4 linked regions of the Homo sapiens genome follow. The protein of the gene in region 3 purifies or fractionates together with the protein of the main gene of each other region. This does not show direct contact. Each region holds a gene or a part of one and is shown on either strand. Other genes may lie near its edges.

Evidence for each region.
Region 1: the proteins of UTP18 (region 3) and C1D purify together in Homo sapiens (co-immunoprecipitation; one large-scale study listed by IntAct). This does not show direct contact.
Region 2: the proteins of UTP18 (region 3) and ADARB1 purify together in Homo sapiens (co-immunoprecipitation; one large-scale study listed by IntAct). This does not show direct contact.
Region 4: the proteins of UTP18 (region 3) and RBM19 fractionate together in Homo sapiens (co-fractionation; one large-scale study listed by BioGRID). This does not show direct contact.

What each region holds. Positions count from the first base shown.
Region 1 is NC_000002.12:68,049,454-68,053,022, forward strand, and holds part of C1D (nuclear nucleic acid-binding protein C1D), read right to left. Parts: intron 1-3,569. UniProt on the Homo sapiens protein: Plays a role in the recruitment of the RNA exosome complex to pre-rRNA to mediate the 3'-5' end processing of the 5.8S rRNA; this function may include MPHOSPH6.
Region 2 is NC_000021.9:45,217,565-45,221,133, reverse strand, and holds part of ADARB1 (double-stranded RNA-specific editase 1), read right to left. Parts: intron 299-3,569; coding exon 120-298; intron 1-119. UniProt on the Homo sapiens protein: Catalyzes the hydrolytic deamination of adenosine to inosine in double-stranded RNA (dsRNA) referred to as A-to-I RNA editing.
Region 3 is NC_000017.11:51,294,933-51,298,445, reverse strand, and holds the end of UTP18 (U3 small nucleolar RNA-associated protein 18 homolog), read right to left. Parts: intron 1,482-3,513; coding exon 1,457-1,481; 3' UTR 1,443-1,456; intron 665-1,442; 3' UTR 513-664; downstream 1-512. UniProt on the Homo sapiens protein: Part of the small subunit (SSU) processome, first precursor of the small eukaryotic ribosomal subunit.
Region 4 is NC_000012.12:113,959,781-113,963,349, forward strand, and holds part of RBM19 (probable RNA-binding protein 19), read right to left. Parts: intron 2,635-3,569; coding exon 2,452-2,634; intron 399-2,451; coding exon 279-398; intron 124-278; coding exon 85-123; intron 1-84. UniProt on the Homo sapiens protein: Plays a role in embryo pre-implantation development.

The sequences.
Region 1 (3,569 bases), on a different chromosome or scaffold from region 3:
TAAATTTGAAAATGTAAATGAAAACAATGATGTTCTTGGGAAGATATCAACTACCAAAACTAAAAAGAAGTACATAAACCATACAGATCATTAACCACAGAAAAAGAATTACACAGTAGTCAAAGACCTACCCTACAAAGAGGTTCTAGTCCTAGATTTTACAGGTAATTTCTTTCAAACCTTCAAGAAACAGTTAACTCCTATGGTATTTAGCTGTTTAAGAATACAGAGAAAGATGGAAAACCTTTTTCATAACATACACAAAAATAAACTCCAAATGAATTAAAAATGTAAACGTATAAACATATTAGATTATATCAAATATTTACATCATCTAAATGAAACCCAAATGCTATAGGAAATGGCTGACAAACTTAACTGCATAAAAACATTTTTGAAAAGTCGTACATGGTAAAAGGATACCATAAGCAAAGTTAAAAGGCAAGAGACAGCCAGGAGAAAGTATCTGACAAAATATCACAAAGAATTAGATAGACTAAATAAACAGTTCCTAGAAAGCAGTAAAACAAATTAAAATAATGAAGATATCATCACCTATCAGATTGGCAATAATTTTAAAGATTAAGAATGTTCAGTGTTAGAAAGGGTATACACTGAAAGTGGAATATAAATTGGTACAGGTTTTTAAAATGCACATACCCTTTGACTCAGGAAATCCTTTTAAGAATCTAGCCTATAAAAATCCTTGCACATGTGCTTATAAATTAAAATGTCCTCCTCAAACTTGTCTCTAAACTTACTCCAGTTTGTCATGTATCAAACTGTCCGTCTGCTGGACTATTACCCATAAGTTTAAATGTTTTATTTCTCCATCTAAGAAAGAAACAAAAAAAAAAAAAATTTCTTGACTTCATATCACCCCCCAGCTAAGGCCCCATTTTCTCTCTTTTACAACAAACTCCTCAAAAGAGATGCTTATACTAACAGTCTCTAATTCCTTTCCTTCCATCCTTTCTCAAATCTCCTACAAACATACCTTACTTTTCTCTCAAAATTGCACTTGGCAAGGTCACCCACACTACCACATGGTTAAATTCAATGGTCAATTCTCAGTTCTCCTTGAGTGACACTGTTGACTGCCTTCTCTTGGTTTTCTCCGTTTCCTTTCTATCTCACTGGCTCCTTTCTTGGTCTCTTCGATGCATCCTTCTCACATCCTCAGCCCCTTAACCAAGTTTGAAGTGCCCAGAGGCTGTTCCTGACTCTCTTCTCTAATTTACTCCCAGGTAAACTGAGGGTTTTAAATTGCTTTAGTAAACTGAAGACTCCAACATTTGTTTCTCCAAACCTGACCTCTCCATTGAACTTCATATTTACATTTCCAGCTGCATACTCAATATCTCTGGTTGGATGTCTAATAAATTCTCAAACAGAACGTGCCCAAAGCCAAATTCCTAACCTTGCCTACTGCAGTTTTCATCATTTCATTTCACGGCAACTTCAACTTTCCAATTGTTCAGTCCCAAAATTTCAGAGTGATCCTTGACTACTCTCTCTCACTTCATCTTTAATACACACCCAGAATCTAGCCATGTCCTACCACCTCTACTGCTACTATCCTGGTCCAAACCACCAAACCACTATCCTGGTCCAAACCATGCCTGAATGCCCTCCTAAATAGCCTTCTTGCTTCTGGCCAAAGTCTATTATCAAGAATACAGAGAGACCATTCAAAATGTAAATAAGATTATGCCATGCTTCTGCTCAGAAACTTCCAAAGGCTTGCCACCTCATTCGACATAAGACAAAAATCCTTACAGTGGGCCCGGCCTGGTGGCTCATGCCTGTAAATCCAGCACTTTGGGAGGCCAAGGCAGGAGGACAGCTTGAGCCCAGGAGTTCGAGACCAACCTGGGCAACATGGCAAGACCCCATATCTATAATTAAAATACATATTTATAGGCTGGGTGCAGTGGCTTATGCCTGTAATCCAAGCACTCTGGGAGGTCAAGATGGAAGGACTGTTTGAGCCTAGGAGTTCAAGACCAACTTGGGCAACACAGCAAGACCCCAACTCTATTTTTAAAATCAAAAAATAATAACTATTTATCTTTTAAAAATCCTTACAGTGGGTTCAAAAAGCTCAACACAATCTGCCCTGACTGCCCGTCACCTTCTGTGACTTCATCTCCCACTCTCCCTTGCTTATTTCATTCCAGCCACATTGTTCTTCCCCCACGACATCAGGCACATGCCTACCTCCCTTTGGGCTTCTCTCCTTCCTAGAATACTCTATTCCTCTCTTCCTCCCTTACCAATACCTTCAGAGCTCATTATGTTACCTTCACCAGATCTCCACTCAAATGTCATCTATTGGTATCTCACTCTTAACCACCCCATTTTAAAATGCACACCCCTCCCCCACACTCCCTATCTCCTCCCCAACCTTACATTCCTCAATATCAACTAACATATATTTATTTGTTGCCGGTCTACTGCCAAAAGGCAACTGCATGGGAGCAGGAATTTTTGTGATCCGTTCACAAGCACTGCCTGACAGTCAATACATTTGTTGAAATAAACTATAACAAAATATTGGAAATAATCTAGATATTCATCGACAGGGAAACAGTTAAATGAATTACACCATATTCATCCTTGAGAATATTACATGTCTTCTAAAAATAAAGAAGTAAATCTATATATAGTGACACACAATGAGAAGGAAAAAGTCAGAGAACAGAGAACATTGTATATAACACATAATGTGCCTAATATATGCCATTTGGTTTTTAAAAAAAAATTGTATATACATACATGTAGAAAAAGGTCTGGAAAGAACATACAAAAAATAGACATTTTCTCTGAAAAGAGACAAGGATTAGGGAATAGGTTCAAAGCAGACTCATTTTTTTAACTCTTCATTCTTCATTGTTTACATTTCAAAAAGCACATATTAAATTTTTAATAAAAAACAAATAAAGGCACTTAATAAAGTATTTTGGCTCTTAACAAATACTGTATGTATTTTTAAAAAACAAAAAAAGGTCTTTATTTAAATGTGAATTTTTTCATCAAATTTTCCTACGAGAAAATATTTCCTTTCTTCAGAAGAACATAGTAGAGATTTTTCCTGCAATTATTCCCTGTCCCTAAGCCCCAATAAACAAGCAGTTATTTATTGTTAGAACAGGTTAGGGTGAACACTGAAAGCATGGTAGTAAGTAAGAATAACTGCCCTCATTAAATCTGAACTGAGCCACTTGCCTTTTCCCTAACTAAAAAAATAAAGACAAGGGGGACTAAAAAATAAAGGCTCTTCTATTATGAGAAATTCCTCCTAATTCAATTGATTTCTACTAACACTTTATTATAGGCAGCTGCTGAGTATTTATTCCTTCCACAGAAAAAGCGCAGAAATTTCCCTCTGTCCCCTTAGCTACTCTGACCCCAGGATCAAGCAGTGACTCTACGATATCAGCAGCAAACTCTTGAATAGCACTGATTATGTGCCAGGCACTACTCTAAGCATTCCACATGCACTTGTTCATCTAAACCTCACAGATGAATAAACTGAGCCAAAAGAAGTTAAAGAACATGCCTAAAGT
Region 2 (3,569 bases), on a different chromosome or scaffold from region 3:
TCGTTTTCGGAAGCTGTGCATGATGACATGATGAAACAACTTAAGGAACAGTAGGTGTGAGGACAGACAAGCTATTGGGGAGGTGGAGCCGGCGCATTGCGGTGAGGGCGCCTCAGTACCTTGCCGTGCACACGCATCCAGCGACAGTACAACGCGTGCTTACACAGGCGGGACGCGCGGCCCAGCTCATCCTTCCCAGTCGTGGCGTTGATGACCTCAATAGCGGAGTCGCCTACCGTCCAGTTGACACTGAAGTTGGGGGCCTTCCCTGGCTGCCGTGCTTCTGCATTGCTGATGCCTGAAACGGAAGACACAGGAAGGTGGTGTGAAGCCCGCTTTCACCCCCAGGGAGGGAGCAGCCACGGGCGGCACACTGTGCTCAGACATGGCCACAGAAGTGCGTGGTGGGGGAATTCTGCCTGCCGAGGAATATACGCAGACTTGAGCGTGCATCTGCCGTGGCAGTGGCCTCACACTCTTCCACGGCCACCAGAATAGGAGCAGTGCTGAGAAAGCAGAACTGACCCACGGGTATGCACTTGTCTGACAGGGCAGGTGGGCAGAAGATTGACAGAAACCTGAAATCATGAGACTTCCTGACAAGTGTGTCTTTTCTCACTCTGGCACTGACGGAGCCAGGAACCTTGGCAGCCTGAGAGTGGATGGGTGGGAGCCACTTCTGAGACTAATGCAGGGTCCCATGAGGTCGTGCAGGTGGGGGTTGCTCCTGTATCACACCACCTCTGGCGCTCATGCCTGCATGTGCTCCCCTGCCACTGAGAGGCCAGGCATGTTCAGGTCACGTGGCTTTGCATGTGTGACATCCATGATGCAATAGGAAACCCTAATTCTTAACAAGAGTCTTGAAAAAGTTCATGGAAAATGCTTATTATGAAAAAACCTCATGGATTTCAAAATTTTTTGGCACCAAAATAAACTTGTACTAACTTGCTGAAACATGTCTGAATAGGATCTAGTTTGAGGCACTAAGAAGATTAAGACATCTGTTTGAAAAGCGCTCCTATCAGAGCTACATGACTTCTGCTAAAATTGAAGCAAGAACAAACATCAAACAGGAGATAAAAATAGCTTTTACAAAGACAATCCTGAAGAAAATGCATAATCCAAAAAAAAAAAAAAAAAAGGCTACCAAGAGGCAGAAGGGGCCCAGTCAAAGCACAGGCTGACTGGCCAAAGCACAGGCCATGGCAGCATTTTTGGGATGCTCAAGGCGTTTTGCTTGTTGGGTTCACATGGAGGGCCAAAGGATGGTAATATCTGCTTATGATGACAGTGTTTCAAGAAAGTGAGCCAAAGCTTTAGCAGAAACCCCCTGGGGAAGCTTCGCCAGAGACCTTCACCATGACAAAGCGCCTATTTATTCCTCTCATCAAACAAGGGCAAGTGTGTGAGGGTTTCGAGAGGAAATCATGAGCCATCCACCTTATGGTGGTTGCAAATCCACCTCATTTGGCTCCTTCTGACTTCTTTTTGTTTCCTAATCTCAAAAATTCCTTAAGGGGCATGCTTAAGGAATTTTTCTTCAGTTACTAATGTAAGAAAGACTGCACTGACATGGTTAAACTCCCAAGACATTCAGTTCTTTTTTTCGAGACGGAGTCTCACTCTTGTTGCCAGGCTGGAGTGTGTGGTGCGATCTTGGCTTGCTGCAACCTCCACCTCCTGGGTTCAAGCGATTCTCCTGCCTCTGCCTCCCAAGTACCTGGGACTACAGGCGCGTGCCACCATGCCCAGCTGGTTTTTGTATTTTTAGTAGAGATGGGGTTTCACCATGTTGGCCAGGATGGTCTCAATCTCCTGACTTCATGATCTTCCCGCCTCGGCCTCCCAAAGTGTTGGGATTACAGGCATGAGCCACCACACCTAGCCACCATTCAGTTCTTTAGGGACAATCTAAATGGCTAGGATCAGCACTTACAAAAATGTCTTGAATTTGATGGAGCTTATGTTGAGAAATAATGTTTATATCTTTAAACATTTTTTTATCTTTTAACTTTATGAACTTTTTGAAGTACCCTTGTACTTATTTTCTTGCTGTGTTTAAACGATCTCATCTTAACTAATCACAGGCTAATTCTGCAGGGTTGAAAGTTTTTAAAAAGACACTTGCATAACTCGGAATTGAATACATGTATCTGCATTTATATATTGAGCTTGATAATTCATATCACATGGATGTTATAGGCCACCAAAATCAAAACTAATTTGGGATATGAATCTTTAGAACATGCTTAGAACATGGGCAGACTCATATTCTGAACCCAGACACTGAACTGTCAAGCCCACTGGCCAGAAGCAGCACACTGCACTCTCAGATGACTCAGTACAACTCACTTCGTGCCCTGTGGAGGCCACCCCCACCCCGTCACCATGCTCACTTGCTTTCAATGACCATTTATCCCTCCCTTGGAGAGATATCAAAACCCAGATGACAGTTCACTGTTCAGAGTAAGGAACCCAGGCAGAGTGTAGCAGATCCCCTGAATTGAGAGTCAAGGGAAACCAAGTCAGCCAGATTTCATAAGACAGAGTACCGGAAGGAAGAGACATGCAGACAGAGTGAGCCCTGGAGATACGCAGAGGGTGTCCTTGAATATCCTGCGGAGCACTGATCAGAGTAGGCATGTTACTCAATCAAGGCTGGGAAACAGCCTCCTGAGAGAATGGAAAAGTGCCTGACATTCACATATAGAAGATACAGACATAAAGATATAAAAAGGCCTAAGCCAAATTTCTAGAGAGGAAAACTACAATGTATTAGATAAAAAATACACTTGATGGGACTAACCACAGAATAGAAACCGCAGAAGAAAAGATTAGTGAACTTAAAGACACAGTAACAGAAACTACCAAAAATGAAACACAAAGAGAGAAAAAAAGAACAGAAAATCAGTGATATGGGGCAGGTTTAGGTAGGGTGAAATATGTGTAATTAGATTTCATGACGGTGAGGAGAGAGAAGGGGGAACGGAAAATATATCTGAAGAAAGATGAATAAAAAATTTCCAAATTTCATGAAACCAACAAACCCATGGATTAAAGAATTTCAATGAATCCCAAGCACAAGAAACATGAATAAAACTATATACCAAAGCACAACAGAACAAATTGTTCAACACTAGTATTAAGAGAAAATCTTAAGCAAACCCAGAGCAAAAAACACACAGAGGAATAAAGATAACAACACATTTCTTACTGGAAACAACGCAAACAACAAGTCAGGGAAGCAATGTCTTTAAAGTGCTTAAAGGAGAAAAAGGACCCTGCCATTCCAGCAGAAATATATTTGTACAGCAAAATATACTTCAAAATGAAAGCAAAATACTTTCCCAGACATACCAAAGCTGAAATAATTCATCATCAGAAGACTTGTGCTACAAGGAATGTAAAAGGAAGTCCTCCAGCCAGAAGAAAAAATGATACCAAAATGGAAATCCAGATCTATACAAAGAATGAAGAGCCCTGGAAATGATAGCTACATGGATAAATATACAAGAGGTTTTTTTCTTATTATTTAAATTCCTTTAAAAGATAATTATTAAGATGAA
Region 3 (3,513 bases):
GAGAACTATGGAGCCAGCTGCCAACCTTGAAATACAAATTAAACATTTAAGTTGGCATAATGAACATTTCCAGGAAGGGCAGTGGCTAATAATCTGTAGGACAAGGCTACCAGGTTTACTATGGCTCCTCTTCAAATGACAATGACAAAGATTTGAAGTAATAAGGCCAGAAAAGCCTTTTCATTTCCAAAATCATCTTTCCTGGAAGACTTGGAAGTTCAAACTTCACTACGTGAGATTTCACTGCTCTCATATCAAGCCGACTGACCTCCATAGCTCAAGAGACTACCTGTTAGCTGATCCCCTAAAGCATGGAGGATCGATTCAGGAAGGGGGATCTATTCAGGAAGAGATCTATGCATCAGGGTTAGCTGTATGAGAAGTATGAGAAAATCTGCTTATATTATTTTTGGCTACAGACAGGTGTTTCCAATTTCTCATGTTTAGTCTTAAATGCATCCAAGTTTGTGTGTGTGTGTGTTGGGGGTGGAGGGAAGAACCAGATACACTTATTTTCAAACAAAAGCTGCCACATGTTTATTAAGACATTACTGGCTCTTAAGCACAGCTGGATCTATAAATCATTTTCCATATATTATCACATATTCAGGAAAGTTTCTGAGATGATATATCAAGACAGGCTTCTCTTGTGACTCAACTGGACCTGAGGAAAGAACAAAAGAAATTACATACCTGATTTATAGCTGCTGGTCATCAACAGACACGTACTGGCAATGTAATCTTTTGAGACAGGAGAGCTAAACTGCTTTCCCCTCCTTGCTAAAGCTTTGCCCAAAATGCCTGTACCTTTAAAAATCCTTTGTCCTAATTAAATCTATCTGCATTCTCAAAGTCCCTCAACATTCATTAATCTCTGAGGAGACCAAACAGTCAACTGTGATGAAGAGGCCAATTGCAAAGCTCAATCTCAGAACCACCACATCTCAGGCCTGAAAGGACACCATGAGAAGGGAAGGATGTTCTATGGTTTTAAATATTGGGCAGCAGAACTAATGGCCAGCCCCATTATCTAGCTCTGTGAAACAGAGCAAGCTGCTAATCTCTCAAGAAACATATATATAATAAGAGGATTCAAGCTCATACAAGCTATAGCTATATCTGAAGACCCATCTCTCTGTGTTATTAAGTCTTTTGTGGATTAAACATGTTCAGTAATTACAATTTTGATGAGAATTATTGAATGCAACATTAGAGATCAGACCTCAGAAGAACCGAGCCAGATTGCTGTGATTTGGGATAAGAAAGGAGGGTCCAACTTCAGCTAGACAGTTCCTGATCTACTTCCAACCCACCCCTCTAAATAAAGATGCAGTAACTTAGGGGTAGAGAAACAAAGCTCAGCTAATGTGCTGCTTCCACCAACTGACAGCAATGGGTGTATCTTAAAACCTGCAGAATTTGTAAGAAAAGGGTTTTCTTACTTCAAATAGTCTCTTTAGAAGTCTGAGTAATGGTGCAACCTGGAAAAGTAAAAAATAAGTCATCTGAACAACTTTGTAATTACCCACAGTGTTTTCAATTAGATCACAGAAGGGCACTTAGGAAGATTTTAGTGGGAAAAATATGTAATCACAATCATTCACACCAGGCAGTTAGGTTCAGACTCCTCAATCTGACATTCTGGAGGATCTGAACGCCTCAGATTTTAGGTAACATGAGTAGGCTTACTCCAAAGTTTCACATGGGGGGTCTATGAAATACCTGATCAGACATAAACAATAAAAATGTCATCAGTCAATTCCAGTCACTGGTATAGCTAGAAACAGTGTCATTCTAAAGAGCAATGCTCTGGTGGAAAATCTAATGGCCTTTGGGTCTTAGAGAAAAAAAAATTTCACTTATAAAAATACCAAAGGATTTGGAAGAAAATTCTAAGTGCAATAAGAATCTGCATCCTTTTATAAAATACAAACTGAAACAGAACCACTCCAAATCTGATCTGAAATGAGACTGATGAAATTATCCTGGTATAACCTGTTTTCCTTTCAAAGTAAGTAGAACTGTAAACCACATTATTGTCTGGTATATTCTCCTTTCACAACTATTTCCTCAAAACCAATTTACATTCCTCCTTTTCTTCACTCCAGATTTTAGTCCGTTTTGAAAGCAGGAATTCCCTAAAGCATACAAACATAAACACAGGGTTCTATGTAGCATTCACTACCAACACAAGGAGCAAGGCAAGAGGGCTGTGATTTACATCACAAGTTTTCTACTGAAAGCTCTTTAGTTCTCCCTAAAGATCCACCTTGTCACCTATATCTTCTAGCAATGATGCAATTAGGTTTTGTTTGTTCCTGTTTTATAGCCAAGTATGTTGGGTACAGAAAAGAACCTGGACAGCGCATATAAGTTTTGGTTATCTTTGTGGTTAACACCCTTATTTACAGCTTACAGCTACAGGGAAAGAAACACCTTTTAAAAAGAAATCAATTAAATCTAGTGGAGTAAACTGAATTATTAAATCAGCAAAAGCTAATCTAAACATAAGGCACGAAGAAAGTGGAAATATTATTAAAGTGGCTTTTTCTCAATTTGACATTCTCAAAATAGTGCTTTCCAAAAAATATATATATTCCCCAGGTGAAGTTTCCTGCTAGTGACATTTTATGGTAGAAAATTACCCAAAGTACTGCCCAAGGTTATTTATAGATTCAATGCCATCCCCATCAAGCTACCAATGACTTTCTTCACAGAATTGGAAAAAACTACTTTAAAGTTCATATGGAACCAAAAAAGAGCCCGCATAGCCAAGTCAATCCTAAGCCAAAAGAACAAAGCTGGAGGCATCATGCTACCTGACTTCAAACTATACTACAAGGCTACAGTAACCAAAACAGCAGGGTACTGGTACCAAAACAGAGATATAGACCAATGGAACAGAACAGAGGCCTCAGAAATAATGCTGCATATCTACAACCATCTGATCTTTGACAAACCTGACAAAAACAAAAAATGGGGAAAGGATTGCCTATTTAATAAATGGTGCTGGGAAAACTGGCTAGCCATATGTAGAAAGCTGAAACTGGGTCCCTTCCTTACACCTTATACAAAAATTAATTCAAGATGGATTAAAGACTTACATGTTAGACCTAAAACCATAAAAACCCTAGAAGAAAACCTAGGCAATACCATTCAGGACATAGGCATGGGCAAGGACTTCATGTCTAAAACACCAAAAGCAATGGCAACAAAAGCCAAAATTGACAAATGGGATCTAATTAAACTAAAGAGTTTCTGCACAGCAAAAGAAACTACCATCAGAGTAAACAGGCAACCTACAAAATGGGAGAAAATTGTCGCAACCTACTCATCTGACAAAGGGCTAATATCCACAATCTACAATGAACTCAAACAAATTTACAAGAAAAAAACAACCCCATCAAAAAGTGGGCGAAGGATATGAACAGACACTTCTCAAAAGAAGACATTTATGCAGCCAAAAAACACATGAAAAAATGCTCATCATCACTGGCCATCAGAGAAATGCAA
Region 4 (3,569 bases), on a different chromosome or scaffold from region 3:
TCCCAGCCTCTACCCTCTCCAGTCTCCACCCTCTTCCACCTGCTGCCCACCCTCTCTCCTCCTTGGGCAACAGGACAGACTCACCTTCTCCAGTTGACCTGCCACCTTTTTCTTCTTCTCATCCTGAAAACAGAAGGCACAGAGAGTGAGGGTCACACAGATGAAGAGAGCTGGGAAACAGAACTGCACTGACCTGGGAGGGCCCATCTTTGGGAACCAAAAGTGAGTGACTACCCTGCTGGCAGTGGGGACAGAGGCTAGAGTGACCCTTTACATACTTTCTTAATTTCTGGAGTAGTAGAGTCTTTTGGAGGCTGCTTGGGCTGGCTTGGTTTCTGGGCATGTTTGCTCCAGGCTCTGGGTTTGGCCGGGTCCCCGAATGACTTGCAGAACTCCACCTGTGTGGGAAAGAGAGTGATTTTCACACCTGCCATGGCACCCAGGCGTTGGGTGCTGCCCTTCGGCACCTGGGAGCTCGGGCATTTCAGACAACTGTCACTGCCTAGCTGAGTTTGCTGAAGTAGATTACACGTCACCCCTTAGCCTGGGCTTTCTTTCCCTTCAAGTCTAGAATACAATACTCTAACAGTCTATCATTATGAGTCTGTAATACTGTAATGGTAATAGCTGCCACTTACTGAGGAACTCCACATGCCAGGTACTGTCTGAAGTGCTCTGCAAGTACTGATACACCGAGCCTCTCATGTCAGTGACAGCTATGACTTTCTACAATTCAGATCAAGAAATTGGAGCATCAAGAAGTCAATTTCCCTGGCTTACCCAGGTAATAAGTGACAGAGTGAAGACTGGAACTCAGGGGGTCTCTGGGCTCTGGAACCTGAGTTCTTAACCATCCACTCTACCGGGCGGCTGTGAGGATGGCATGAGATGACCTGGGCCAAGCACTCAACCAGGCTCTGGGCAGGGTAATGTGGGGCAGTGGCTACCACAGTTACCCCACACTGCCCTGGGTTAATTATCATAAAGTAAGCTCATCTGGCTCCAGAGAACAATTCTAGGGTGATAGGGGCACTGGGGTGACCACTGGAGGGACGGAAGAGTACTGGAGACCCAGCCTGAGCTGACGCACTATTCAGGCCCTAAAACCTCCAATACACTCCTCTGAGAGGACTTTGAGAGCGCTGGTTACTGGGGCATCCACCACCGCAAGCCACTCCCAGCCACAGTTAAGGCTGACGCTGGTCAACCAACCACTGCCCCTGGGGGAAGGAGCTGCCATCTGGTTGCAATCCTTTTTAAGACACAGGGTCTCACTCCGTTGCCCAGGCTGGACTGCAGTGGCATGATCATAGCTCACTGCAGCCTCAAACTCTTGGGCTCAAGTGATCCTCTTGTCTCAGCCTTCTGAATACCTAGGACTCCAGGCACATGTCACCATGCCCGGCTAATTTTTTTTTTTATTTTTGTAAAGACGCAGTCTTGCTATGTTGCACAGGCTGGTCTTGAACTCCTGGCTTCAAGTGATCCTCCCACCTCAGCCTCCCAAAGTGCTTGTATTATAGGCAGGAGCCACCACACCTGGCCAGTTACAATCCCTTTTGTGCACACTTCCAAAATAGGCTTGTTATCTCTATAATAATGACATGCTCACGGTACAAAATTCAAATAATATACAAAAGTACAATGGAAGTTAAAAAAGATGTACTCCAATTCCTATCACTCATGGAGAGGAATGATTAGTATTTTGGTACAAATCCTATCCTATGGCCTTCTATGCATTTATCATATATGTATGGATAGAGGAATACGATTGTGTCTATATAGGATCACGAGACATATATATATTTATCCATCATCTGTTTTTTCCTTCTCAACAAAGCATTAGAGATGTTTTTACGAAGTCACTAAATACACGAGTGACCTGAGTGGAGCCCACTCCTCCAGGAAGCTTTCCTGACTCCTCCCTGGTCCGGCTATAGATCTTTGTTCTCCCACAGTCCCTGGGGCTCACCCTATCATAGCACTGATGTCACTGAGCCAAAGCAGCCTGCTGACCTGTCAGCCCCCTGCCTGCCCAGAGACAGCAGGCTCCATGAGGACAGGGGCTGAGGCATCACCTTTTTCTCTAAACTCCCAGCATCATTGAGTGCTTGCTAAATGCATGAGTGAATGGATGAGGTAGAGCTGTGGTTCTCAAGGTGTGGGCCTCAGACCAGCAGCATGGTCGTCACCTGAGGGCTTGTTGGATGTGTGAATTCTTGGGTCCTGACTCCATGCACTGAATCAGATGCTCTGGGGACGGGCCCAGGAAGCTGTTATAATAAGCTCTCAGGTGATTTGTATGCACATGAAAGTGTGTGAATCGGTGAGGAAGAAAACCAAAGACATCACAAAGTGAAGAGGGACGGTCTTTGAACTCAAGTGCTGAGTGAAAGATCAAACAACGTCACACTTGACAGGAAGGTAAGGGTGAGACTCCTGCCCACTCACTGTGATCCGGGATGTGTCGATGAAGCTCTTGTTGAAATGCTTCTGTGCCTTCTGGGCCTCTTCCTCGGACTTGAAGCCAATAAAACCAAACTTGCGGAACTTGCCATCTTTGGTGAACTTCAGGCTGCAGTCTGTCAGCGTGCCGAAGGCGGCAAACAGCTGCCTGAAACGCTCCTCCTTCATCTAGGACAGAGGGAAAGGAATGAGAGACGAACTGGAAAGTCCCCAGAGCAAGGGGACAAAATGGGCTGGAAACCTGAGGCCACGAGATTCTCCAAGGGTGGCCTTAGATGAAGAGGGGCAGAGTGTACTTTTCTAGTTACAACAGGTTCCAGCTCTGACTCTAGCACGAGTTGTGTGGCCTTGAGAAAGTCCCTTAACCACTCACTGATGTGGAAATCATGACTCATAATGGCTGCAAATGACATCTTCCTACCCTATGGGGCTCCTATGAGGATAAGACCAATTACAGAAGCAGTATTACGTCTGCTACATAGTAGATACCTAATAAATACTTGTAGGAATAAATGAAAGAATGAACAGGCATGGTAAGCTATATATATCTTTGTTAATAAAGCCCCCCCAAAAGATGCCCACATCCTAATCCCTGGAAACTGTGGATATGTTACCTTACAAGGCAAAAGGGACTTGTCAGGTGTGACTGATATGGAGATGGGGAGATGATCTGGATTATGCAGCCAGGTCCAATGTCACCTCAAGGGTCCTTATGAGAGGGAGGCGGGAAGATCAGAGAAGATGGAAACAGAAAGATTGGAAGATGCTATGCTATTGGCTCCAAATATGGAGTATATAGCTATGAACCAAGGAAGGCAGGTGCTTCTAGAAGCTGAAAAAAGGCAAAGGGACAGATATTCCCACAGAGCTTCCAGAAGGACTGCAGCCCTGCCAAAGCCTTGATTTTAGGATTTCTGACCTGCAAAACTGTAAGATAAGGATTGTCTGGATTGTTTAAGCCACTAAGTTTGTGCTAATTTGCTATAGCTGCACTAAAAAACTAACACACTATTATTATAATTTGGTCAAGAAGCCCCACACTATGGAAAACAGGCTCCTGGCTTCTCACCATCTTCACTGCAGCCAGGCTACCCTCACAACTC